Linked DNA regions of Homo sapiens: region 2 is linked to region 1. The links come from fine-mapping of genetic effects on gene expression. A gene starts in region 1. The other region holds a variant in brackets. All regions are shown on one strand. Distances are from middle to middle.

Region 1 (12,861 bases):
ATTCTCAGGACTCTTCAGGGTATTAGGGACTTAGCACTTTTGATTCTTTCTCTTTTCCTTTTTTCCTTCCTTCCCCTCATATTGACACTGTCCGTATGTCAGGTAATTTTCTGGGTTCTGGAGTGGTGTGGATGAATCCCACACTGTTCCTGTTGTCCAAGAGCTCCTGGTGTAGACTCATAAGCAAGGCTCTGACATGAGATATGGTAACTGGCTTGTGCCCAGAATCTGCCTTGGCCAGAATTGGAGATCAGGGAAGGACTGGTTTTAAATCGGGGAGCTGATTAGTCTGAGTAAGTAGGGTGGGAATATGGTGACCAACTTTGTCCTAGGAATATCACTGTAAATCTTATGTTCTGGAAACCCCCCTCAGTCCCAGGCACAGTGGGACAGCTGGTCACCTTGGCGCGATCCTGGTAAGGAATGGCATGGTTTGCACAAGATAGGAGCTGCTCAGGGCGCTGGTGCTGGTGTGGCTATGAAGCAGGCAGCTCCCGGATGAACAGGGAAGAACGTGGGGCTTCAGGTCTGGAGCCTGGGGGGCTGGCGTGGAGGTGGCTGCTGTGGCAAAGCAGAAGTAAGGGTGATGGCTTGGAAGGAGGGGGTGAGGGAGGGAAGGAGTCAGGGAGAATGGCCACAGTCTGTCTTGGGGACTGGTGGGTGGGGCGCCTCCAGTGAAGAGCAGGTGTCAGCAGAGGGGCATGCTCGGAGGACAGCCCTCAGGAAGTCGGCCGCTAGCCTGCTCTTTCTCCTTGTTCTGCTCTGGCCCCTCTGTGGGCCCCTGCAGCTTTGTGATCCTCATTTGTCATGAGGGGTACCCCACAGTCTGATGGGGACTGGGCGGAGGGTCAGACACCAAATTATGTATACCATAGTCCTCCTGACCAGGGACCAGGACTCAAAACCAGGTCACTGGTGAGGCCTGGCACTGTGGGGGCAGGACTTTTTTTCCAGCTGGGGACTCGGCTACCTGCTGACTTTCCAGAAGACAGGTCACAGCACCGAGCAGGGGTGGGCGGAACACAAGGACTTGAGGGTGGGTGACAGTGTCAGCTGGCTGAGCCAGGGAGGGCAGGAAGGGAGGTGGCCCTGGAGATACTGGAGGTCTTCACAATGGCAGAGGACAGGCGGTGGCAGAGACAGTGAATGGCACCCCCAAACCTGCTCTCCCCTGCCCGTGTGCCCTCTACTTATAGCTGGCTACATCTCCCAGCCTCCTCTGCAGCTTGGTTGGCTATGTGACTCAGGCGTAGCCAATGGGATGTACATTAGAAGTGGCTACGGCAGCTTTGGGGAAGGGTCCTTAACAGGCAGAGGCAAGCCCTCCCTCTCTCCTTCCTTTCCCTTCCATCTGCAGGAACGCAGAGGTGATGGGTGGAGCTTGAATAGCTCTCTTGGTCTATGAGGAGATGGGAGAAGGATATTGAAGAGACCCTAGTAGCAAGCCAGATTTAGCTCAGGATCCTGACATCATAAAGCCACCCCACCTAGCCTGGGTGGCCTCCCTTTGGACTTCTTTTATGTAAGAGAGAAATAAAGCCCTCTCTTATTTTAGGTCACTGTTTTCTTCTTCTGTTCTCTTTGGACACACGCAGCTGAACTTCATCCTAACTGGGACACTGTTGTACAGTGGAGGCGGTGATGGCAGCACGCGGGTGAGCTGAGGTGGAAGTTCAAGGGGTCTTGGTTAACACAGGTCAGAATGATGGCAGGGTGCAAGTGCAGGCCTGGGTGTGGGACTGGTATGGAGCAGTTCAGAGGGAACAGGAGGCTGGAGGCTACAGTGTGGACCCTGACATCTCCTGGGAGGCGGAGTGGAGAGGGAGGCTGAGCGCAAGGGCCAAGCACTCCAGTGAGCAGAGGGAGGACGGGTAGGGCGTTTGGCAGATACCAGGACTGAGGAGGATGCAGTCTGGCTTGGCCCCAAAAAAGACAGCCCAAGGACATCAGGGCTGGAAGACCCCAATATGCCCTTGTCCCATGGCCCCTGTGAAAGAGGGGTCTGGGTCCAGTGGTGGGAGGGCTGTGGGACTGGGTGCATGGAAACAGAGGGTATGAGGCGGTTTGTTCCCAGTGGGACCCATGAAGATGCAGCGCAGAGGGTCAGGTGGGGATGTGGAAGACGTAAGAGAAGTAGTTATAGGAGCAAGGCGTGGAGCTCGTGGAGGAGGCTGGGTCCAAACCCCAGCACTCCTGAGACCCAGGTCTGGGTAGGCCCGAGTGGGCTCTGTCAGGGCTCTGCCATCAGAGAAGCTTCTGGATTACATCTCAGGTTGCCTCAGAGAGAATCGGATGTCCTCTGGGACAGACCTAGGTTCTAATCCTGGCTCTGCCACATTCTGGTAGGATGACTCATGAGGCCTGGTTTCCTGGCCTGTAAAATGGCAAGGGAAGAGCAGGCTCAGCATGCACAAAGCCCTGACAGAGTGAGAAAGCACAGGAGGCAGGGTCAGAGATGAAGATGGGGCAGTCCCTGTAGGACATGTGGGTCAAGACTGAGAGTTTGGATTTTACTGTGAATGCACTGGGAAGGTTTGAGTGTGTATGATGGGGAGTGGCTGGGGGGTGAAATGACGTGATTTGAGTTTGGGAAAGGTTGCTCTGGCCGCTGAGTGGAGAACAGACCAGAGAGTCAGGAGTATTAATAGAAACAGGGAGACCAGGGCGGAGGCCACCATGGGCCTGCTGAGGTGGGAGATGACACGGCTCTGAGCAGGGCAGGGGCTGAAGAAAGCAGGTGCACCTCTCTGCACACCCCTGCTGGCCACCCATGCCTCTGGGCTTCTGCTGGCGTACTGTCTCACCCCTCCTCACCTGGTTTTATGTTCAGCTGTAGCACCTGGGGGACAGACTGTATGAGTCAGAGAAAACAGAAACAGCAGTCCCCAGGTCTCAGAGGCCCAACAATAGAGGTTTATTTTTCATTCAAGTTATAGCCCAGTGTGAATTGTCTGAGGAGGGGTGAGGGCCTGTCCTTCAAGGGACTCCAGCCCCTCTACCCAAAACTTCACTGGATTCTGGCAGGGGAGGGGAGAGAGAGAAAGAGATAGAGGGATGGCCGGCCGTGGTGGCTAACGTCTGTAATCCCAGCACTTAGGGAGGCCAAGGCAGGCAGATCACGAGGTCAGGAGATCGAGACCGTCCTGGCCAACATGGTGAAACCCCATCTCTACTGAAAATACAAAAATTAGCTGGGTGTGGTGGTGTGTGCCTGTAATCCCAGCTACTCGGGAAGCTGAGGCAGGAGAATTGTTTGAACCGGGGAGGCGGAGCTTGCAATGAGCCGAGATCGCGCCACTGCACTCCAGCCTGGCTACAGAGCAAGATTCCGTCTAAAAAACAAAAAAAAAAAAAGAAAAAAAAAGAGAGATAGAGGGATTAAGAGACACAGGAGATCATAGGTGAGATTTTTTTTAGGCCTAGAAGTAGAATAAATCACTTCCTCCCACATCCCATTAGCCAGACTTGGTTCTGGAGCCCCAGCTCACTGCAAGGGAGGCTGGGAAGCAGACCCGAGCTGATGCCGGGAGGAGGGTGCACGCCATGGCCTGGGGACCCATTCCACCAGGTTTCCCTCCTACGTGCTCCCACAGGCCATGAGGTGTTACATAGAGGATGTGAAGGAGAATCATTCTCTGCGTAGCCCCCTCCCTGCCTCTCCATCTGAGGTGTTCTGGGCTAGGACCCTTGACAAAAGAACAAACCGGCTCCATCCCCTGTCTCCTGGGGTGGGAGACTCTGTATGTGGGGGCTGCACCATCCCCCATTCTGCTCCCCACTTTCCTGGCTGCTGCACATCTCAGGGGCACGAGGGTGGAGAGTGGCCTACCTCCCTCCCTTGGTCCTACCCCGCTGGCCTGGGCTGCGCGCCTCAGGCTTCCTGTGTCTGACCTGGTCTTTGGGGCATCTGGGGTGCTCAGTAAATGTTTGTTGAATAAATAAAAGAAGGAAAGCAGGATGAGGAGGAAGAAGAGTCTTGGGCAGTATGTGCCAGGCAGACTGATGCTGTCTCATGGATGAAATAGCTGTACGCAGCTGCTCCTTGCAAGCTGGGTCTGTGACTTCTGGCTTTGGCTGCGGATGCATTTTTCTTTTCTTTGTATGTGTGTGCTTTTAAAGTTTTAACTGAATTCATTTATTTGGGGGCAGGAAATATGTTCATGCCATACAAAAGGGTCTATAGAGAAAAGCGTCCTTCCTAACCCTTCCTCACCTGGCTCTCCTCCCTGAGACAACCGGCGTTCCTAATTTCTTGCAAAGCTTCTGGGAATATTTGAGGCTTAATAAATGTTGGCTGTTATTCTCATGGTTGTGGCTGTTGTGTTTAGTATCCTCTCCTGCCGCCAGACAGCCTTACTCTAGAGGAGAGGGAAGGGCAGTGTGGAAGGAACTGGCCCTTACAGCAAGCCTGCAGTGCGTGGTCACATTAAATGCTTTATACACACCTTCTTGTCCAGTTCTCCCTTCATTTGGTAGGTCTGCACACTGAAGCACAGGGAGGCCTAAGTCACAGCCTCAATCTCCAGTCCTGCCCCTCCTGGGCAGCAGTGCTCCACGCTTCTTCTTTTCCAGCAGCGGGCTTTGCACATGGGAGTTGGGCCTGATTCTCTTTTTGGAGTCTTGAATTCCACTTTTCTCACATTTGCAGAGCTGCCGTCTCTGCTCTTCTCTCTCTTCTTCTCAGAAGAGGTGGCAGGCTGGGCGCAGTGGCTCACACCTGTAATCCCAGCACTTTGGGAGGCCGAGGGAGGTGGATCACCTGAGGTCAGGAGTTCAAGATCAGCCTGGCCAACATGGGGAAACCCCGTCTCTACTGAAAATACAAAAATTAGCCGGGCATGGTAGCACGTGCCTGTAATCCCATCTACTCGGGAAGCCGAGGCAGGAGAATCGCTTGAACTTTGTGGGCAGAGGTTGCAGTGAGCCGAGATTGTGCCACTGCACTCCAGCCTGGGTGACAGAGCTAGACTATGTCTCAAAAAAAAAAAAAAAAAAAAAAAGAGGCCACAGCTTGCAATAAAACCCCTCTGAAACAGGGAATCAGGAAAGGGAAGAAGCAGAGCTGCTGCTTCTGGGCTCTGAGGATGGAACTTCACAGGGTCTATGGGGCTGTGATGTAGCACGTAAATAGATGTGCATTTTTCTAAAGACCAATCCATAAGTTTCCATCATTTAAAAAAAAGAGCCCTGAGCTGAGCTCCCACGCCACCCTTCTCCCCCGCCAAAAAAGGGGGAGAAGGGTTAGGAACCATGACTTGAGAGGAAGAGGAAGGTTCTAGAATGTTCAGTAAGTGACCATCAAATTGTTCACAAAGACCTGATAGTCATCTCTGGGAAGTGCTAGCTAGAACAAACAGACAAGAGAAAGAAGTAAAGGGCATCCAAATTGGAAAGGAAGAAGTCAAATTATCCTTGTTTGTAGACGATATTATCTTATATTTCAAAAAGCCTAAAAACGCCACCACAAAACTATGAGAACTGATAAACAAATTCAGTTAAGCTGCAGAATACAAAATCAACATACAAAAGTTAGTAGTATTTCTATGTACCAACAGCAAACAATCTGAAAAAGAAATCAAGAAAATAACTCCATTTGGAATAGCTACAAATAAAATAAAATACCTAGGAATAAACGTAACCAAAAAAGTGAAAGATCTCTATAATGAAAACTATAAAACGTTGGTGCAAGAAACTGAAGAGGACACAAAAAATAAAAAGATATTCTATGTTTATGGATTGGAAGAATCAATATTGTTAAAATGTCCATACCACCCAAAGAAATATACAGACTCAATGTAATCCCTATCAAAATACTAATGACATTCTTCACAGAAGTAGAAAAAATAATCGTCAAATTTATATGGAACCACAAAAGATGCAGAGTAGCCAAAGCCATCCTAAGCAAAAAGAGTGAAACTGGACAAATCACATTATCTGACTTCAAATTATACCACAGAGCTACAGTAACCAAAACAGCGTGGCGCTAGCGTAAAAACAGATGCATTGACCAATGAACCATTGGTCAGAATAGGGAACCCAGAAACAAATCCACACACCTACAGTGAACTTATTTTCAACAAAATTGCCAAAAACATACCTTTGGGGAAAGGCCAGTCTTTTCAATAAATGTTGCTGGGAAAACTGGATATCCATATGCAGAAGAATGAAACTAGACCCTCATCTCTCTTCATATACAAAAATCAAATCCAAATGGATTAAAGACTTAAATCTGAGACCTCAAACTATGAAACTACTAAAAGGAACATTGGGGAAACTCTTTAGGACATGGGACTAGGCAAAGATTTCTTGAGCAATACCCCACCAGCACATGCAACCAAAGCAGAAATGATAGATGAGATCACATCAAGTTAAAAGGCTTCTACACAGCAAAGGATGCAATCAGCAAAGTGAAGAGACAACCCACAGAATGGGAGAAAATATTTGCAAACTATCTGACAAGGGATTAATAACTGGACTAGATAAGGAGCTCAAACATCTTTATGGAAAAAAATTATAGAAATCCCATCAAAAATTGGGCAAATGATCTGAATAGACAGTTCTCAAAAGAAAACATATAAGTTTATGAAAAGGTGCTCAACATCATTGATCATCAGAGAAATGCATGTCAAAACTACAATGAGATATTATCTCACCTCAGTTAAAATGACTTTTATCCAAAAGGCAGGCAATAATGAATGCTGGTGAGGGTGGGGAGAAAAGGGAACTCTCGTACACTGTTGGTGGGAATGTAAATTAGTACAACCACTATAAAGAACAGTTTGAAGAGTCCTCAAAACACTAAAAATAGAACTACTATATGATCCAGCAATCCCACTGCTGAGTATATACCCAGAAGAAAGGAAATCAGTATATGGAAGAGACATCTGCATTCCCACATTTGTTGCAGCACTGTTCACAATACCCAGGATTTGGAAGCAACCTAAGTGCCCATCAACAGATGAATGAATAAAGAAAATGTGGTACATATATGCAATGGAGTACTATTCAGCCATGAAAAAGAATGAGATCCTGTCTTTGCAACCACATGTTTGAAACTGGAGGTCATTATGTTAAGTGAAACAGGCCAGGCACAAAAAGACAAAGCTCACATGTTCTCACTTATTTGTGGGAGCTAAAAATTAAAACAATTGAATTCATGGAAATGGGAAGGGCAGTGATGGAGATGGGAAGGGCAGTGGGGGTTGGAGGGGTGGGGATTGTTGTTGGGTACGAAAACAGAATTAGATCGAATGAATAAGATCTAGTATTTGATAGCATAACAGGGTGACTTTAGTCAACAATAATTTATTGTACATTTAAAAATAACTAAAAGAGTATACTTGGATTTTAACACAAAGAAAGGATAAATACTTGAGGTGATGGATACCCCATTTACCCTGATGTGATTATTATACATTGTATGCCTGTATCAAAATAGCTCATGTGCCTCATGAATATAGACACCTACCACATGCCCACAAAATTAAAAACTAAAAAAAACAGTCATCTCTGAATGCTAAACGGAGTAAGGGGCTTCCTGGAAGGCTGGGTGAAATGGGAGTCTCGGAAAGATGGTGTGTTGCAGGCTGGGAGGAGGGTGAGACGCTGGGGTCACCTAGAGGGACCTGCTTGTGTGAAGCCTACGTATTAGTGGGTATGTGTGTGACCGGATGGAGGCGTCAGAGGTGTTGGGTAGCCTGTGTGAGTTGGCGTGGGGGTGATGTAGGAGGGGAGAGAGGGAGGGCCTGCGTTCCCTTGGCTCCTGTGTGCAGCTAGGCCCCTATTTGACAATGTGTGTCTGTGTGTGTGTGTGTGTGTGTGTGTGTGTGTGTGTGTGTGTGTGCCGCCCCCAGCGTAGGAGGCAGATCTTTATCTGGCCCTGGGTGCTTGAGGAGTTTCAGGCTTTCTCATAAGCCTCGTCTCCCCGCCTCTCCACCCCAGGCCTTGCCCCTCTATCCTCTGCACAGGAAGTGGGCTGGCTCTGGGCTTTTAGTCTTTGCGGCCCCAGCAGCCAGAGCTCAGCAGGGCCCTGGAGAGATGGCCACGGTCCCAGCACCGGGGAGGACTGGAGAGCGCGCGCTGCCACCGCCCCATGTCTCAGCCAGGTGATGTCCCCCTGCCTCCCTCCCGGCCCCTGTGGACCAGCCAGAGGGCTGGGAGTGAAAGTCACAGAGAAGACTTTCAGCTCTGACTCAGTTCCCCCAGCAGTTTCTGCCTGAACTCCCATCCCCCAACTTTGTCTTAGAATTCCCCTAGGGAGGGGTTGGGCCCAGCTCTCATGGCTCCTGGCTGGAGGAAAAAGCGGTCCCCAGTCCCAGGTCAGCTCTCCTTCCCAACCCATTCAGGGGAGGCTAGGGACTGCTGTGGGATGAGGGGCTTCCCTGGGCTCTGTGTGCTGGGCCCCCAACCCGGAGAGGTGGAGAAGGGATGGGTGGATAGCCTGGGTGCCCGGAGAGGGTACGGGATATGGGGTGGGACAGGCGGGAGCCCCCTCCTGACCTCTGTGGAGTGGGGCCCATATACCGGGGGAGGCAGCCCTGTGTTGCGTGCTCATCAGGAGGCTTGTGGAGTAAGTGGGGACAGAAGGGTCCCCTTGGAGAGCCATCTATGAAGTGAAGTTGCTGCGAGGCCTCTGGGAGCCCCAGGCTGGAGGCAGAGCCCTGGGTTTGAGTCTGGGTTTGTCCCTCCCTTGGCTGCATGACTGGACAGGTCAGAAGCATCTCCGGACATTGGGGATGGGACCCTATCTTTGGGGCTGCCTGGAGCTCATGCTCTCTCCTCTCCTGGGGGCCGAAGCCTCCCACTCTTAACTGTGTTTGTAGCACCTCGGGGGAGGGAGGTGGAGTGAGGAGCTGAGCTATCCCCAAGGGTCCCCTTCCTTCCCCCACAGCCAGGGTCCCGCACCCAGCTGGAGAAGCCCCTGAAGTTAAATAGCAAGAGACAAGCACTGTGTATGGGAGCAGGGGGGTGGCAGGTGGAGGTGGCCAGAGAGGACGAGGGGACATAGGCCCCATTGAGTTCAGAGGTCAAGTTGGATGAACCATGGGCTCCCGAGCTCCTGCTTTACCACCCTGCCCCAGCCACCATATACCCCTGATGGCAGCAGGGGCCCCGAACTGCACCTGACCAGGTTCAAATCCCAGCTCTATGCCCTTCTCGCCTGGGTGAGAGGTTGACCCGTTTCTTAGTCTCCTCATTTGGCAAAAAGGAGGCATACTAGAGCCTCCTCATGGGGCTGTAGGGAGGGCTAAAAGCTGAACTACCCCCGAGCGCTCAGGGCAGGCAGTGTAGGCAGAGAGAGAGCAGGCACCAGTCCCTGTCCCCAGCAGCATCTCTCTGAAAATCAGATGGCTGGGGTCAGCCGCTCCGGGCTTCAGTTCTGGCATGGATCAAATGGGGCAGCAAGACCCACCTTGCAGGGCTGTGGTGGGGACGTAGGCATCCGTGGGTGTGACCAGTTTCAGAGTCATGAACGACAGGGCACGTGTGGGTGTGCCTGAGGACCCAGGAGGGGGTGCTCAAACTCGAGGTCCTGGGCTCCACTTGCTGTCACCCGAGGCTGGGCTTCTCCTCACCGTGCAACCTTAAGTGGGTTCCTTGGCCTCCCTGAGGCACAGCTTCCCCATTGCAGAATGAGGGTGCAGCCTCAGTGACTGCCAGGCGCTCCCTCAGCTCTGTGCCCCTCTGGCACCCCCACACCATCCTCCCGTGGACTCTGCCCTCTCCGAGCATCGCTGCACCTCTGAGCTCCAGGCGGCGGGAAGCAGACTCCAGATGGCGCTTTCTCCTCCTGCCCGGCTGCCTCTAGGCTGGGCCTGTGGTTTACCCCTAACCTTCCTTTGACCTTGCACCCCTTTGTCCCTCAGCACCTTCCTCACACACTGGGGCTCTCTGCAGTTCCTGTCCTGGGCATGGGGTCATCCTGAGGCTGGGCCCGACCTGGGGTGACACCCACACAAAACATTGATGGTCCCCTTGCCCCAGGGCCAGGTTGGCATGATTGAGCGTGAAGGGGCATAGGGGCTATGGGAGTCCCCTGGTTGGGCTATGCACTCTTTGGGGTCCCAACCCTGTGCCCTCTGCTATTGGGGGATCCCAAGAAAGAGGTGAGCAGCCCCCACCCTGGGGAGCTCACCCTCCTGTGGAGACGGTAGGCCAGGCAAAGGCGAGCCCATGGTACCCCGAATAAGCACCTGCCAGTCTGTCTGTGAGCTGCTGGGTCCTGACTCCCAGGACAGAGAGGGTGGCAGCCTTACCTCTGGGACCAGTGTCTGGCAGGGTGGGACAGCATGAGAGAGTGAGCCTGGAGCCCTAGCTCCACCTCTTACTGTGTTTATGACCCTGGGCAAGTTAGGGGCTTGGAGCCTTAGTTTCCTCATCTGTAGAATGGGATAATAAAGCCATTGGGCAGCTTAGACGAGCTGGCATATGTGAGGCACTTGGCCCCAGGCCTAGCATAGAGTATGTGCTCAGTACACAGAACGAGTATTATTAGTTCACCAGTGCATATTTACTGTCGTGTGAGCTGTCGTGGTGGGAAGATGCGTCTGGGGAGTTCCAGGAGGGGAGGATCCCTGCCTGGGCACTGGGCAGTCTGCCCTGACTCAGATTCCAGAAAGGCCTCTTATCCACTGCATGACCTTAGGCAACGCACTTCACCTCTGTGTGCCTCCGTTTCCTCATTGGAAAATGGGGATAATAAGAGTATCCCCGCCAGAGGCCCTGATTGCTGCATTTAAAGAGTTTTAAATGGAGCCTGGCTTACAGTAACCTGTCAGCCGATGGTTTTGGTGTGACTAAGGGGGTGGCAGAGCGGCGTGGAGTTGGGTTCTGATCCCAGCTCTGTGCTGGGCTCCTGATGTAACCTTCAGCAAGTCTTTCCCACTTCGGGACCTCAGTGTTCTCAAATGTAGAACAAGGGACTGTGCTTGCTCAGAGAGCCTTTGCAGCTTTGACAGTGCGTGGGCCTCTGACTCTCACTCCTGTGACATCTGCCTTAGGAGATGGAACCCATGGCTCTTGGGGCCAGGGTGTGTGTCCCTGCTCCATGCTGGCTCTGATGTAAGCCACGAGACAATCCAGGGCCACCTAAAGAGCTCTGCTTTTTTTTTTTTGCCGTACTGAGGCCTCTGACCACACTCATTCATTTCACTACATTTATTGAGCACCGACTGTGTGCCCGGCCCTGTGCTCAGCAGTCCCTGGAGCGAGTGTGCTGGTGGGCCAGCCCCTGGTCAACGCCGGCCCTGCTGCTGCCAGCCTAGAGGGAGGAGCAAGGCGCTCAGAAGAGGAAGCCCTCGCCCTCCATCACGGAAATCAGGGAAGGCTTCATGGAAAAAGGCATGAGGGCCCGTTTGAAATGGGCTTGAAGGATGGCAGGATCTGTAGGGGACCCAGGGAAAGGATAGACTTGGGAAGGACCTTTGGAGGGTGAGTGTCGGTTTCCTGGTCACCTGGAGCCACTGGCTTGTGCAGGCAGGTAGGTGCGGTGTGTGTGTGCTTTGGCCTGGGTACATGCACCTGCTCCTGTGAGGGCAGGGTCTGGAAGGGTGGGCTGACCTCATTCCGGTCCCAGAAAGCCTCGAAAATGGGAATTTAGGCTTTGATTGCAACAGGGCCACTGCAGGTTCCTGGGCAGGGATGTGGGTGGTTGGAGGCGGGCTTCAGGGAAGGCAGGTGAGAGCCTGCAGATGGGGTGGTGCCGTTGTCTGGGCTGGAACGGCACGAGGCTGGCCTGGTGAGGGTGGGGAAGAGACAACAAGTAGTCACTGGAGTGTCCTGCTGTCTGAGGAGAGTCCTGACTGGCTAGGTATGGGGGCAAAGGTCACCTGGAATAGGAAGGGTACAGTTGTCCCAGAACTGAAAGTCAGACAGGAGAAGAGCTGGGGATGAGCTGGGTTTTTGCCGGGTCCAGGAGCATCCCCTGTGAGGGGGTCCTGCAGACCATCGGGAGGGACGTGGAGGCTTGGGGCTGAGCTGGAGAAAGACCCTGGGAAGCTGAGGGCTGGAGCCAGTGAGAGGCTCAAGAGAGAGAAGGGAAGGGGAGTGAGAGCTCGAGTTTGGAGCCGCTGGAGAAGGGGGAACAGCGGGGGAAATGCCCAACGCTCAGGAGCCTTGGAAGCTCTCGAGATGGAAGAGCAGGAGGGAGGGAAGGATGTTCCACCTCCTCCACATCTCTTGACTCACCTGCTCCTCTCCCCTCTCCCCCTGCCCCTCTGACTGAGGCTACCCTCATCTTTCCCTGGAAGCTCCCTCCTCATCTCCCTGCCTCCCCCTTTGCCTGCTCCAAACACCTCTCCTGGAAGCAGTCCCCTTATCTTCCCGAAGTGACCATGTGCTCACTTTCTCATTCCCCTCCGCACACCCAGCCCCTGCAGAGGGTGGGGGCAGCTACTTTTCTTTCCCATTTCCGCTGCGACAGTTGTGGTCTTGCCTCACGGGAGCTTCCACGGTTGGCTAGAGGTTCCCTGAGAAGCAAGTCTTTGTCTCAAAAAAAAAAAGTAAATAAATAAAGCACTGGCCAGTGGCCAGTGCATAATAGGCACTCCGGGAAAACTTTTGAGCCTCCCTCTGACAGGGCTGGCTTAGAGATTTCATGTCTCTTTCCTCCCTGGGGTATAATCTGGGTGACCAACCTGGCCCTGCCTCCAGGGAGCTTCCAGGCAGGTAGGGGAGTACGAGTGTGGACAAGGTCCTCCGTAAAGGCTACTGCAGCCCTCTGTGCCTCAGTTTCCCCTGTCCTCTAGGGCTCTTCAGTGTTTGGGTCAGAGCTCCTATCTGCTTTTCTGCTTTTCCGAGTTCGCGTCCTGATGCCTTCACACCATTGCCTCAGCTCCCTCGAGGGACAGTGAGGGGCAGAGG
Region 2 (15,205 bases), 27 kb after region 1:
TGCGGCTCCGTGCCTGGCATCCAGAGCTGTGGTGCCGATGGCATAACACCGCGGTCCTTCCCTTTCTCACCCTCCTCCTTCCCTCCTCTCCTCTGTCCAGGCTGAAGAAGGTCCTGAAGTGTAACACCCCAGACCCCTCGAAGTTCTTTTCCCAGCTGAGCTCAGAGCATGGAGGAGACGTCCAGGTAGGAGGCCGGGGCGGGGAGACAGAGGTGGGCAGGGGTGTGAGTGGGATGAGGGGGTGGCAGGTTAGTAGCTAATTTTGTGTTTTGTGAGAGGAGACAAAACGCCGAAGTGAGCAGCCTCCGGGGTGTGCATGGGTCTCTTCTCCAGCTCTGGCACTTTCCATCTGAGCCAGACTGCCTGGGTTCTAATCCCAGCTCCACCACATTCTGGCTGTGTGACCTTGGGCCTATAGAGCCTCCCTGGGCCTCAGTTTCCCCACCTGTTAGATGAGGAGAAAAACAGTGTTACTATGTGTCCTGCCCTGAGTACATTGCCTGGCACGCAGTTAGTGTTCAAAAGAACCCTATCAGGCTGGGTGCAGTGGTTCATGCCTGTAATCCCAGCACTTTGGGAGGCTGTGGCAGGTAGATCACGAGGTCAGGAGTTCGAGACCAGCCTGACCAACATGGTGAAGCCCTGTCTCTACTAAAAATACAAAAATTAGCCGGGCTGGTGGTGCATGCCTGTAATCCCAGCTACTCAGGAGGCTGAGACAGGGGAATCGCTTGAACCCAGGAGGCGGAGGTTACAGTGAGCTGAGATGGCACCACTGCACTCCAGCCTGGGCGACAGAGTGAGACTCCATCTCAAAAAAAAAAAAAAAGTACCCTATCTGGTATTACCGTTGCCGGTGTGCTGAACGAACAGGACCTGCCAGCACAAGCTCTCTCCACCCCACTGTCTGTGCAGACATGCTCTGTGCTTCTCCTGTCCCTGCTCAAAATTCCTGAGCAGGCTCCATAACTTAGCGTGGATACTAACAAGTCTTCCCGTCACTTTGAGTCACAAAACACCGATTCATTTTTAAAGTGCCGGCCCGCAGATCAGTAACGCTCTAAACTCCATCTCAGATTCCGTCGTCTCCTCTTCCCCAGCCCATGCCCCCTTCAGGCAGGAAGCTTCAAGAATGAAGGGGGGACATGGGGGGTACTTTTTACCACCCTAGCCCCACTCTAGGCTCCCAAGATTGGGGGGTGGGGATGAGGTAGGGGCAGAGGGAGGTCAAGAAGAGTGGCGGAGGAGGAAAGCCATGCCGGACCAGAGCTGTCATGACCTGGCTTTGGAGTTCTCTATCAGGGCTGATCAAGGGCCCCTTCTGGAACTCCTTGGAAAACTCCCAAGATGAGAATATCTTAGTTGCAGTGCTTTTATTTATTTATTTATTTATTTATTTTTTGAGATGGAGTCTTGCTCTGTCGTCCAGGCTAGAGTGCAATGGCACGACCTCAGCTCACTGCAAACTCTGCCTCCTGGGTTCAACCGATGCTCCTGCCTCAGTCTCCCGAGTAGCTGGGACTACAAGCACACACCACCACACTTGGCTAATTCTTGTACTTTTAATAGAGACGGGGTTTTGCCATGTTGGCCAGGCTGGTCTTGAACTCCTGATCTCAGGTGATCTGCCCGCCTCGGCCTCCCAAAGTGCTGGGATTACAGGCGTGCGCCACCGTGCCTGGCCATTAGTTGCAGTACTCTTAATGTGCGGGAATGTATTTCCTTAAAATTCTTCCCTCAGCCTTGAGGGTAGCAAGATTCCCATCTATAAAGGTATTCAAGCAAGCCATGGTTGCCTATGTGTCAGAAGCATAGAGATTCTCCCATTGAACTGGTTGGAGGCTGCGGTAGATTAGCTGCATGCTCAGATACCTTCCAGCTTCAAGTCCTGATTCTATGAACCTACAACATCGTGAGGTGGGAGCTGCAAACCATTCCAGCTTCCCATGAGGGTATGGTATCCTTGGGTCTAGTGTGTGGAGCGGGGTCCTGAGGAAGAAGGCATGATGTGGCTGGGGGTTGGGGATGGCAAAGCAGGCCCCACCTTTTCTGCATCTGGGTGAGAGACCTACCCCTCCACCCTAGGACCCACAGGGGCCACAAGGCCCACCCCCACTTCCCAGGGGATCGTGGAACGTGTGTGCGAGTGTGGGAGTATGTGTGAGGGGCGTGAGTGTCTCCTGAAGCCCCTTTCAGGGCATTGTGGGCAGAGGCTCAGGCCCAGGAAGTAGCTGGCCACAGGCAGTGGGTCCCTGGCTCACCGGCACTGGCCACAGGCCTGGCCGCTCCCTCTCTGGCTGCACACACAGGGCTGCTGTCTGGCCCCGCCCTTGCCCTGGGTATCATGAATCTCACCCGACCAGTGCTTCTTCCTCTCTGCCCAGCCAGCGACCCTCTTTGCCATCCTCAGTTTATCCTTTCTGCCTCTCTCAGCCTTTTCTTTTGTGACATAACTCCTGGTTGCAGAAAGGGGGCGGATTTAATTGAGTGGTGTGTGCACGTGTGTGCATGTGTGCATGCATGTAAGCGTGTGTGTGTGTGTCTGCGGAGCAGCTGGCTCAGCCTCAGGGACTCTCCCTGGAGAGGAGAACTGGGCATTTGTTGCTGGTTCATTAATTCATCTGAAATAGATCCATGAGACCCGCCATGCTGGGCACAGAGGCCTGGGGAGCCCATTGGGCCTGGCCCCTGTGCTTAGGGGGCCATAGTCCAGCTGCTGAGGGTTCCCAGGACAGAGGGTTGTCAGGGCTCCCAAACTCACCCACCCGAGGCCCCTGCCACACCACCAGGAGGGCCTGCTGTCCCCCACTCTGCTGTGCAGTCTGTGTCTTACCCGTTTTGGGTGTTTACATCTCCATTTGCTTACCTGATGTCTCCTTGGTGACCTGATGGGTGACAGCAAGGAAGTCAGGAGAGACGTGGCTGTTGTGGAAACTGAGGCCCAGAGAGGTGCAGGGGCCCTCCCAGGGTCACACAGTTAGTGAGTGCCAGGGCCAGGGCTAGAACCCGGGTCTTCCCACTCCTTGCCAGGGCTCTCTGGAATCCCGAGCAACTGAGAAGTGCTCTGATGGGCACTTTCCTCTCTCTGGGGATGGGAGGCGGAGGGGGTGGGGGTGGGGACTGCAGGGAACTGGGGGAAAGGTGAATCAGGAAACCATCAGCTCCCCCAAGAGACGTTCCCACCACAGTGTAAGCGGAGACCCTGGGTCCCAGCTCTGCCGCCTGCTGGTCTGTGATCAGGGCCAGGGCATGTCCCGTCTCTGGGCATCTGTAGGGTGAACAGGCTGTACTCTCAGTGCCCTTCTGCTTTGGCATGGGTGGATCGATTCCCACACTTGTGCTAGTGCCCACTAGACAGTCTGAGGATTCTCTCCTTTCCTGGGTCCCCAGCATCTAGAACAGTGCCAGGCTCATAGCAGGTGTCCAATAAACAGTCACTCTTGAGCAATCAGACATTCCTGGGCACTACTGGCAGCCAGGCAGGCCTGTGCTGGGCTGTGGGTCAGGCAGTGTCCCTGGGCTGGTGGCCCAGAGGGCCCCCAAGCCAGTGGGTGGGTTGGGGGAGTGCGGGGCTATAATCAGGGAGAGCTTCCTGGATGGGGCAGCCCTGGGCCAACTGCTTCAGGAGGAGGAGGAGTTAGGAGCTGTTGAGAGTCCAGAGGAAGGGGTGGAGGGTGAAGGAAGCCCCCACTCACCCACCCCTGGCCTTTCTCCCACCAGAAGTGGCTCTCTTCGCCCTTCCCCTCATCGTCCTTCAGCCCTGGCGGCCTGGCACCTGAGATCTCGCCACTAGAAGTGCTGGAGAGGGACAAGGTGACGCAGCTGCTCCTGCAGCAGGACAAGGTGCCTGAGCCCGCATCCTTAAGCAGCAACCACTCGCTGACCAGCTGCTTCACCAACCAGGGTTACTTCTTCTTCCACCTCCCGGATGCCTTGGAGATAGAGGCCTGCCAGGTGTACTTTACTTACGACCCCTACTCAGAGGAAGACCCTGATGAGGGTGTGGCCGGGGCACCCACAGGGTCTTCCCCCCAACCCCTGCAGCCTCTGTCAGGGGAGGACGACGCCTACTGCACCTTCCCCTCCAGGGATGACCTGCTGCTCTTCTCCCCCAGTCTCCTCGGTGGCCCCAGCCCCCCAAGCACTGCCCCTGGGGGCAGTGGGGCCGGTGAAGAGAGGATGCCCCCTTCTTTGCAAGAAAGAGTCCCCAGAGACTGGGACCCCCAGCCCCTGGGGCCTCCCACCCCAGGAGTCCCAGACCTGGTGGATTTTCAGCCACCCCCTGAGCTGGTGCTGCGAGAGGCTGGGGAGGAGGTCCCTGACGCTGGCCCCAGGGAGGGAGTCAGTTTCCCCTGGTCCAGGCCTCCTGGGCAGGGGGAGTTCAGGGCCCTTAATGCTCGCCTGCCCCTGAACACTGATGCCTACTTGTCCCTCCAAGAACTCCAGGGTCAGGACCCAACTCACTTGGTGTAGACAGATGGCCAGGGTGGGAGGCAGGCAGCTGCCTGCTCTGCGCCGAGCCTCAGAAGGACCCTGTTGAGGGTCCTCAGTCCACTGCTGAGGA[C/T]ACTCAGTGTCCAGTTGCAGCTGGACTTCTCCACCCGGATGGCCCCCACCCAGTCCTGCACACTTGGTCCATCCATTTCCAAACCTCCACTGCTGCTCCCGGGTCCTGCTGCCCGAGCCAGGAACTGTGTGTGTTGCAGGGGGGCAGTAACTCCCCAACTCCCTCGTTAATCACAGGATCCCACGAATTTAGGCTCAGAAGCATCGCTCCTCTCCAGCCCTGCAGCTATTCACCAATATCAGTCCTCGCGGCTCTCCAGGGCTCCCTGCCCTGACCTCTTCCCTGGGTTTTCTGCCCCAGCCTCCTCCTTCCCTCCCCTCCCCGTCCACAGGGCAGCCTGAGCGTGCTTTCCAAAACCCAAATATGGCCACGCTCCCCCTCGGTTCAAAACCTTGCACAGGTCCCACTGCCCTCAGCCCCACTTCTCAGCCTGGTACTTGTACCTCCGGTGTCGTGTGGGGACATCCCCTTCTGCAATCCTCCCTACCGTCCTCCTGAGCCACTCAGAGCTCCCTCACACCCCCTCTGTTGCACATGCTATTCCCTGGGGCTGCTGTGCGCTCCCCCTCATCTAGGTGACAAACTTCCCTGACTCTTCAAGTGCCGGTTTTGCTTCTCCTGGAGGGAAGCACTGCCTCCCTTAATCTGCCAGAAACTTCTAGCGTCAGTGCTGGAGGGAGAAGCTGTCAGGGACCCAGGGCGCCTGGAGAAAGAGGCCCTGTTACTATTCCTTTGGGATCTCTGAGGCCTCAGAGTGCTTGGCTGCTGTATCTTTAATGCTGGGGCCCAAGTAAGGGCACAGATCCCCCCACAAAGTGGATGCCTGCTGCATCTTCCCACAGTGGCTTCACAGACCCACAAGAGAAGCTGATGGGGAGTAAACCCTGGAGTCCGAGGCCCAGGCAGCAGCCCCGCCTAGTGGTGGGCCCTGATGCTGCCAGGCCTGGGACCTCCCACTGCCCCCTCCACTGGAGGGGTCTCCTCTGCAGCTCAGGGACTGGCACACTGGCCTCCAGAAGGGCAGCTCCACAGGGCAGGGCCTCATTATTTTTCACTGCCCCAGACACAGTGCCCAACACCCCGTCGTATACCCTGGATGAACGAATTAATTACCTGGCACCACCTCGTCTGGGCTCCCTGCGCCTGACATTCACACAGAGAGGCAGAGTCCCGTGCCCATTAGGTCTGGCATGCCCCCTCCTGCAAGGGGCTCAACCCCCTACCCCGACCCCTCCACGTATCTTTCCTAGGCAGATCACGTTGCAATGGCTCAAACAACATTCCACCCCAGCAGGACAGTGACCCCAGTCCCAGCTAACTCTGACCTGGGAGCCCTCAGGCACCTGCACTTACAGGCCTTGCTCACAGCTGATTGGGCACCTGACCACACGCCCCCACAGGCTCTGACCAGCAGCCTATGAGGGGGTTTGGCACCAAGCTCTGTCCAATCAGGTAGGCTGGGCCTGAACTAGCCAATCAGATCAACTCTGTCTTGGGCGTTTGAACTCAGGGAGGGAGGCCCTTGGGAGCAGGTGCTTGTGGACAAGGCTCCACAAGCGTTGAGCCTTGGAAAGGTAGACAAGCGTTGAGCCACTAAGCAGAGGACCTTGGGTTCCCAATACAAAAATACCTACTGCTGAGAGGGCTGCTGACCATTTGGTCAGGATTCCTGTTGCCTTTATATCCAAAATAAACTCCCCTTTCTTGAGGTTGTCTGAGTCTTGGGTCTATGCCTTGAAAAAAGCTGAATTATTGGACAGTCTCACCTCCTGCCATAGGGTCCTGAATGTTTCAGACCACAAGGGGCTCCACACCTTTGCTGTGTGTTCTGGGGCAACCTACTAATCCTCTCTGCAAGTCGGTCTCCTTATCCCCCCAAATGGAAATTGTATTTGCCTTCTCCACTTTGGGAGGCTCCCACTTCTTGGGAGGGTTACATTTTTTAAGTCTTAATCATTTGTGACATATGTATCTATACATCCGTATCTTTTAATGATCCGTGTGTACCATCTTTGTGATTATTTCCTTAATATTTTTTCTTTAAGTCAGTTCATTTTCGTTGAAATACATTTATTTAAAGAAAAATCTTTGTTACTCTGTAAATGAAAAAACCCATTTTCGCTATAAATAAAAGGTAACTGTACAAAATAAGTACAATGCAACAAAATAGTGTTGATATTCATTGCCTGCGGTAAACCTGTTGTCTCTTAAAGGGGAAATGAGAAGCTGCTGGGGAGCTGTCGAAGACATCCCAGGGCCAAATGCAAACTTCCTCCTTGAGAGAAAGGAAAAGGATTGTAAAGGGAATATCTTTTTCACTAATAGGAGTCAGGACTGTCTGTCTTATTCTGTGTCCAGGTATCAGCTCATGGCCATATCCCACAAGTCTATGCCTGGGGAAATATTGCACTTGATGACGAATCTCTCTCTCTCTCCTCTCTCTCTCTCTCTCTCTCTCTCTCTCTCTCTCTCTCTCTCTCTCTCTCTCCCCCCCCCTCTATCCCCCTCCCTCCAGATAGGTAGATAGATGATAGATAGATAGTGTCCTGATAAAAGTTGGACCAGACCAGGGATGGCAATTCCTGGCATTCATAAAGCCACACTCATGGCAGACATTACTAATCAATTGCACCCATGCACGGCAGACATTTCTAATTGAACACAGCTCTCCTCCTGCAGAGCCTGGGTGCAGCTTCAGATTCTGCAATGCTGCGCTATAGGCAGCCCCCAGTTGGTCACAGCTGATAGCTGATGACATCTCTGGACCGCATAATTCCTCAGGTTCCTAACACAAAAGGAGCTCTTAGGTTTCCCAACTCCGATTTCCCAGGCAGGGAAAACTGAAGCTGAGAGGATGGAGACTGGAAAGCTGAGAGGGACCTGTGAGAGGCAAGCCCAGGGAGCCCAGCTGTCCCCACCATGTCTGGTGAGAGACTTGAGCTGGCAGGGAGCAGAGTCAGGGCCACCTTATACCGGGTGCAGATGAAGGGATGGGCCAGCGGTCACTGTGTGTCATGCCCAGTGTGGATCCGAGTGTGGATCTTGGGAGAGGAGACAAAGAGGAAGCAGCTGGCGGCAGGGGTGGTGGTCAGATTGCAGGAGGGGCCTGGGTCAGATTCAGGAGACAGGAGCGGCACCAGCTGGGGACCGGGCAGCCGCTGGGGCCCTGGAGAACCGTCAGGTACAGAGCGGGAAGCAGGAGGCAGCCAGGGCAGATCTTGGGGGTAAGAGAAAAAGGAGGAGAGGTGGGGGGAGGGGGGGGCCTTCCAGCCTCTCATGTTTCCTCTTTGTTGAACTAGGTTTGTTATTTTGCTTCCTCCGTTCCCCCACCTCCCATCTCTCATTCGAAGCAACTTCAGGTGCCTGCATTTCCCAAGTAAATTATGGTGGAAACTGTAGGCCCAGGTCCAGGATGAAGCACCCACCACTGTCCTCCTCATTACTGACAGCTGAAAAAACAGACCAAGGAGGACAGTAAGAAGGGGCAAGAGAACCAATACTTCCACTCTACACATTGTGCCAGCATGGCCTGGGCGTCATCTCTCATCATCTGGAAACAACCTTGAGAAGCAGGTGCTTTATTCCCCATTTTGCTGATTAGGAAACAGGCCCAGGGAGGTGGAGCAACGCAGCTGATGGTTGGTAGCATCAGGATTCAAACTCAGGTACATCTGACTCCGGAGCTTTTGGCCCTTAGCATACAGAAGGCTACATAGGAGATAATTATACTAATGGGAAAATACCTGGTAAAATTTCATTCTAAGCTTCCTGGCAGTCAACTTCGGGGGGAAAATAAGATGCCATGATCCATTAGTGTGATTGTGGGAGAAAAAGCAAAGCCCTTTGATAGTTTGGCAGGTAGATGGGGCTGAACGGTGGCCAGGAGAGAAGGCTGAGGGCGATGCTGGTTGGTCAGGCCGAGGTGGTCTTACCTCCTCCTCCTCCGTAACTGCTGAGCCCCTCCTACTGCCTCCACCCTCCAAGCTGGTCCAGTGTCCCTCTGGGCCAGCATTTCACTGGCTTCTCCCACCCCCACCCTGGTGACCTCCGTGCCACAGACCTGACGCCATCACCTCTCACTCGTATGCCTGCTCAGCCTCCTCCTCGGTCTGCCTGTCCCCACAGCCGCCTGCCCCTCTGATCCTTCCACCTCTGAGCCCTGCCAGGCTGATCTGGCTAAAGGTCGTATCTGGCCACACCACATCCTTGCTAAACCTCCAGTGACCCACTGTCATTTTCAGGATAATGGCTGAGGTCCTTAATGTGATCGTCCATGGCTTGGGGGACTTTGGGGAGGTCCCATCTGCTCTTATGCCTCAGTTGCCCCATCTGTGAATTGGGCAGGCAGATTGGATGATTTCTAAGTGCTCTCCTAGCCCTGACATTCTGTGGTTCCAGGTGCCACATGGAATATGGCTTAAGGCCTGGGCTACATGTATTTTACATCAAGAGTTCACGCTGGGGTTGGGGGGTGGGGATGAGAGTAGGGATTGCAACTGACTCATTTGCTTGGCACCTGCTGATCCCTGGGTTTGAAGTAGCCCTGCCCTGCCACCCAAGCTATCTACCCTCAGGTTCCTATGCATCCCTCAGAACCCCACTCAAGCATCTCTGCTTCTGGCAGGCCCTCTGATTTGCCCCCAAGTAGAGTAGATTACTTCCTCCTACTGTCCCCCTCCTGAGCTACCTCTGTTATAACCAACTGTTGTGCCGTGGGTCAGAGCCTGGGCTAGATTCTGGGGATCTAAGGGTGATACTAATAGCTTTGGAAGAACATCAGGTAGAGCCCCGTTAGCTCAAGACTTTAGTCAGAAAAGCCAGGCACAAGAAGACTCTGAAAGGACCTTCTAATTGGGGAAGGAGGGTGGAATGTTGGGTGGAGCTTTAGCAAGGGGGCTCAACTGGAACTCAGCTAGTTTTGGTTATAGTTGATTGAGGATGGTGCTTGGAAGAGAGAGGAATTGTTCTTGCAGATTAGCAGCCACTATTTGACAATTTGGGCTTTATCAACAGGCAGTGGGGGAGGGACAGCTTTGGGGTCAAGGATCTGTGAGAGCCACTGTGGAATGTTCTCGGTCCTTCAAAGTCTTCGAGAACTGCATGTATTGAGCACTTAGATGCGTCAGACTCTGTTATAAGCACATTGATCCTTCCACTCTCTGGAAGCATCCTTAACTCACTGGATCCTTAAGCAAATGCCATGAGGGAGGTACTATTCTTAGCCCATTTTATAGCTGAGCCTATGGCTCAGAGTGGCCAAGTGACTTACCCATGATCACACAGCTAGAATGTAGTGGAGCAAGTTGAACCCAGGCAATATTTAGCACCCACATGGCACAGCTTCTTACAGCTTCTAAAGGGTGTGCACCCCTGGTATCCCACACAAACACACAGTGACCTACCAAGATAGGAATGACAGAGGTTCTAAGTCTTGTTCCTCAGTAGAGGCCCAGAGGCCCTGAGGGGATGGCGGTGCCGTGTCCCGGGCCACACAGTGCGTTTGGTAGTGGGGGAGGGAGTGTTGATTAAATTTGAGCTCACCACCAGCACCTGTGACAGGCCTGGGACATCCCCTAGGCTGACTTGCTTAGAGACATTTTCCACCACCAGGGCTATGACACACTCGAGGCTCCCATCACAGAGCCTGGCAGAAAGTGAGGCAGGAAGCGCTGAGTGGTGAGAGACGCAGGTCGGGTAGTGGAGGGGGGAGTGCCCAGTCTACGATTCCAGGAAGCCAGGATGCAGACGGAGGGAGGAGCAGAGCTGGCAGACAATGTCTCATCTCCCATTCCTCTATTTACCTGGCCTCATGCTGGGCACTGGCCACAGAGAGGAGGCCGGCTACTGCTCTGTCCACAAAGAGTCTCCAACCTTGTCTGGGAGGGAGTGACTCTGGAGGACACATACAAGTAGACCAGCTGATCACAGCCCTCCTTCGGTGTGGAAGAAAATCAACCCGGTCCTGTGAGCACAAGCCTTGATCAGGAAATGGTGCCAGTGAACACTCTGGTGGAGTCTTCTAACCTGGGGAGGAATTGTGGAATGCCGTGCGGGGCTTTAGCAAGAGAGGCTGAGCCAGAGTTCAGGTAGTTTTGGATAGCTGCTTGAGGATGGTTCTTAGAAGAGGAAGGAATTGTTCATTCATTCATTTATTCATTCAACAGACATTTAGGAGGGCCTAGTACCTGCAAGTCACGGTGTTGGGGATCCAGCAGCGAGCAAAGCCCCCTTCATTCTACACTTTCAGCCTTTGTGGACACCTTGGGGCAGTGTGGCATAGTGGTTATAGCCTTAACTCTGGAGCCCCGCAGCCGGGTTAAGTACTGGCCCCCTCACTCTGGAGCCCCGCAGCCGGGTTAAGTACTGGCCCCCTCACTCTGGAGCCCCGCAGCCTGGGTTAAGTACTGGCCCTGCTGCCTATCAGCTGTGACTTTGGACAAATACCTAAGCTTCTCCGTGCCTCAGTTTTCTCATCTGTAAAAGGGGACAATACCAGGACTGTTGTGAGGATGAAAGAAATAATTGAATGTGGCAGGGTGCTGTGGCTTGCACCTGTAATCCAGCACTTAGGGAGGTCCAGGTGGGAGGATCCCTTGAGCCCAGGAGTCCAAGACCAGCCTGGCTAACATGGTGAGACCCTGTGTCTACAAAAAATATATACAGAAAATTAGCCGGGCATGGTGGTACATACGTGTAGTCCTAGCTACTAGGGAGGCCGAGGTGGGAAGATCCCTTGAGCATAGGAGATTGAGGCTGCAGTGAGCATTGATCGTGCCACTGCACTCCAGCCTGGGCAACAGAGTGAGGCCCTGTTACAAAAAAAGAAGTAAGTTAATGTAAAGTACTTAGGAGAGAAGAGCTAGCCGTGGGAGAGACAGACAGAGACAGGGCTGTGACCAGGGCAGCCAGGGGCCAGAGATGTGGAAGCTGCTGACTTGCTGGCTGGCCTTTTGGATACTCTGTTGCTGTGTTGGTGATGGCTGTTTGGGGCAGGGGATGAGCTGGACACCTGCAGGCTTGGTGTCTCCTGCCACCTCCCTGCCCTTTCCAACCTCCTAATCCTGACAGCTCATCTCCCTCAAGCACCTGGGTAGGTCTTGGGGGATGATGGTTTGAGATAAGGCCCAAATCTATGATGACAAGATTCTAGGAGGTGTGACAAATGCTGAAGGAAACCTATGAGGTCTTCTTCCTACCTCTCAAATCCAGCCGTGCTGGCTGCCACCCGCCTAGCTCAGGGCCGAGGACATTTTGTCCCTCCCAATTCTGTACCACTTGGCCCCTTTGAGCCTCAGTCTCTTCATCTAAAATGGGGTGAAGAAGTGAAATTTCAAAGGCCGGGTGCGGTAGCTCACTCCTGTAATCCCAGCACTTTGGGAGGCCAAGGTGGGTGGATCACCTGAGGTCAGGAGTTTGAGACCGGCCTGACCAACATGGTGAAACCCCATCTCTACTAAAAATACAAAAAAATTAGCTGGGCATGGTGGCCTGCGCCTGTAGCCCCATCTACTCAGGAAGCTGAGACAGGAGAATCACTTGAACCCAGGAGGCGGAGGCTGCAGTGAGCTGAGATCGCGCCACTGCACTCCAGCCTGGACAACAGAGTGAGACTCTGTCTCAAAAAAAAAAAAAGAAAAAAAAAAAAGATAGCCCACCCTGTGCCCAGTAACTACTGCTCATTCATTCTAATCTATTTATTGAGCTTCTACTATGTGCACTGGACTGTTCAAATTGGACATTTCGGTTTGAGAGAGCTCGGGTTGCTTGGAACGGGCTTGATGGTGGGTGGCTGGCCGTCCCCGGCCAACGGTCCAGTGATTCTCGTAACAGTGGGTGTAGGAGAGCACCCGTTACACTGTCAGTCCGAGCAATCAGCCAGGAACGGTACATGTTGGCGAGAGAATTCTATTGCTTGTAATTTATGCAAATATGAAACTAACAATGAAACCTTTGCTGCTGGGATCCCAAACTCAGATGCTGACAGGGACTGGGGTTTGGGTAGATATTAGCTGCAGTGATGAAATGCTGATGGTGTACACCCAGTAGATGCGGGCCCCGTTCTAAGTTCCTCACACAGGTTCTGTCAATCTTCACAACACTTAGGCTTACTGTCTCATTTTCTATATGAGGAAATGAAGGCCCAGTAAAATCAAATACCTTGTAGCTCAAGGGCATGTGGCCAAATAAGTGGTGGAGCCAGGACTCAAACTCAGGCTCCTGACTCTAGTAACTCTTTTTAACCCATGCAGTGTGATACAATAGGGAGTGGTGAGGTCTGTGTCAAACCGAAATTGCTCCAGGGCAGCCATCGCTGATTGTTGCCATGTTGGGGATCAGCTAGGTCATCTACTTTTTTTTTTTTTTTTAAGACAGAGTTTCACTCTTGTTGCCTAGGCTGGAGTGCAATGGCGTGATCTCAGCTCACCGCAACCTCAGCCTCCCGGGTTCAAGCGATTCTCCTGCCTCAGCCTCCCGAGTAGCTGAAACTACAGGCACGCACCACCACGCCTGGCGAATTTTGTATTTTCAGTAGAGACGGGGTTTCTCCACGTTGGTCAGGCTGGTCTTGAATTCCCGACCTCAGGTGATCCGCCCGCCTCCACCTCCCAAAGTGCTGGGATTACAGGCCTGAGCCACTGCGCAGGCCTGATCTTCTACATTTTTAAGAGAAGCTGAAAATTCAGTTTTTCCTGCAAAGTGTCCTTATTTTTAAATATTGGCCACTCATCTTTTAAAAACAGAAAACAAGCAAGCCAAGCAAAATGTGTCTGCACGGTAGAGAGGGAGGGAGAAAGGAAGAGCATCCTGCGGGATTTATTGTAAAGATCACTTCTTCCTGACCCCAGGTGTGCTGGCTGCTCCGTGCCCCCACCCCCTGCTTGCTGAGCTCAGCTGCAACTCTCTCCAGTTAACGATCCTCGATCCTCCGTGATCCATCCATTATTGAATCCCAGCACCTGCCACAGGTTGTTCGTTGAATGGATGTGTAGGTTGGTAAATGGGCAAAGGGGAGGAGGGAAAAAGGAAAAGGAGAAAGGAAGGAAGGAAAGGTGGGAGGGGAAGTTACTTAGAGGCTTTGAAAACCTGGAATGACCAAGGTTCTGAGAAACCAACGTGGAGGGAAGAGGCAACAGAGCCGACTGGTATCAGGAGCTCTCTCGGGCCCACCAAGTCAACAGCTGTCTGACACAGATGACCAAGGAGAATAGAGGTACTCGGGGAACCTGAGTGAGTGCTGGGGTCTTCCCATGAAAGGGCAGCAGGAAAGAGCCTCCTTGGGGAAATTTAGGTGTCTGTGACCTTGGACAGGGCCCCCTTCAAGGGCAAGAGCTAGTCCCACAAACCGGACTGTCTTTAGAGGAGGCTCTGCCTGCAATGTTTTGAGGCAAAAAAAAAAAAAAAAAAAAAAAAGTTGAAAATTGCAATTTTGTGTCCTTTGGAAATTTTTGTTGACTCTCTGCCTAAAGCCTTATGTATATGGAAATAAGTAATATTGTTCTTTTGTTTTAGTTTTTAGAATTCATTTTTGGACAGTATACTGGGAAGAGTACAGGCTGGGAATCAGGTCACCTGGGTTCCAGTCCCAGCCCTGCCTCAGCATTGCTGTGCAACCTTGGGTAGTCTCCACCCACTCTCTGGGTCTGGCTCCCTGATGTGGTTTGGCTGTGTCCCCACCCAAATCTCATTTCAAATTGTAGCTTCCATCATCCCCACGTGTAGTGGGAAGGACCAGGTGGGAGGTAATTGAATCATGGGGGCAGGTTTTTCCCATGCCGTTCTTGTGATAGTGAATAAGTCTCATGAGCTCTAATGGTTTTGTAAAGGACAGTTCCCCTGCACACACTCTTGCCCGCCACCATGTAAGACGTGCCCTTACTCCTCCTTTGCCTTCTGCCATGATTTTGAGGCCTCCGCAGCCATGTGGAACTGTGAGGCCATTAAACCTCTTTTTCTTTATAAATTACCCAGTCTTGGGTATTTTTTCATAACAGCATGAAAATGGACTAATATAGTCCCCCTATCTGTTCTGGGAGCCCCACCTGCTACAATCCCACAGTGGAGGAGAAGGTCAGGCTGAGTGATGCATGCAGAGTTTCCATTCTGTGTCCCCAAGGTGGCTTGAAGCAGCCCCTCCCAAACCCCAAACCCCTGATCAGCATCTGTACCCCGACTGCCCATCTGGGAAAGAAGCGACTGGGCATGCCAGGGCCTGGTGGTGAGTTTGTCCTAGCAGCATCTTCAGACAGAGGCCAGAGGCCAGGACCCAGGGCTGAGACAGAGGCCGAGGGCTCAGGAGTGGTGGTGTGGGCAGTGGGAAGGAACACAGAGACAGGAGAAGGTGTCACTGGGAAGGACAACTGGCTCTGAAGCCAGAGGGTCCTGGGTTTGAATCCAGCTCCTAGCACTTCCTGACTGTGTGACATCAAGCAAATCACTGCTCTGAAACTCCACTTTCTCACCTCAGATGGGTGAAGTGACCATTTTTCTTATTGGAGATCAGGCCTATCCTGGGTCTGGTTAGCTGTATTGTAAGCCATAGATTATTCTAAGCCTTAGGATCCTTAAATCCCTGTACAGATGGAGGAAGACAAGCCACAGAGATGGGGACTCCTGAGAGGTCCCACACCTGTTGGTGACAGG

The links. PIP is the estimated chance that this variant, and not a neighbour inherited with it, causes the effect.
Region 2: its variant is fine-mapped to the expression of IL2RB in whole blood (TOPMed, PIP 0.98).

What each region holds. Positions count from the first base shown.
Region 1 is chr22:37,145,069-37,157,929 of GRCh38, reverse strand. It overlaps IL2RB (interleukin 2 receptor subunit beta), which reads left to right and starts at 8,014. Exons shown (of 10, transcript NM_000878.5): 1 at 8,014-8,105. RefSeq lists enhancers at 7,644-7,755, 7,838-7,869, 7,952-7,974, 9,678-9,727 and a promoter at 7,149-8,104.
Region 2 is chr22:37,117,364-37,132,568 of GRCh38, reverse strand. It overlaps IL2RB (interleukin 2 receptor subunit beta), which reads left to right. Exons shown (of 10, transcript NM_000878.5): 9 at 101-185; 10 at 3,721-6,726. The coding sequence ends at 4,473. Among named protein-coding and RNA genes, the nearest start is that of TMPRSS6, 15 kb to the right of the region's middle. RefSeq lists an enhancer at 5,372-5,421. The variant C/T (reference allele first, on the strand shown) is at 4,565.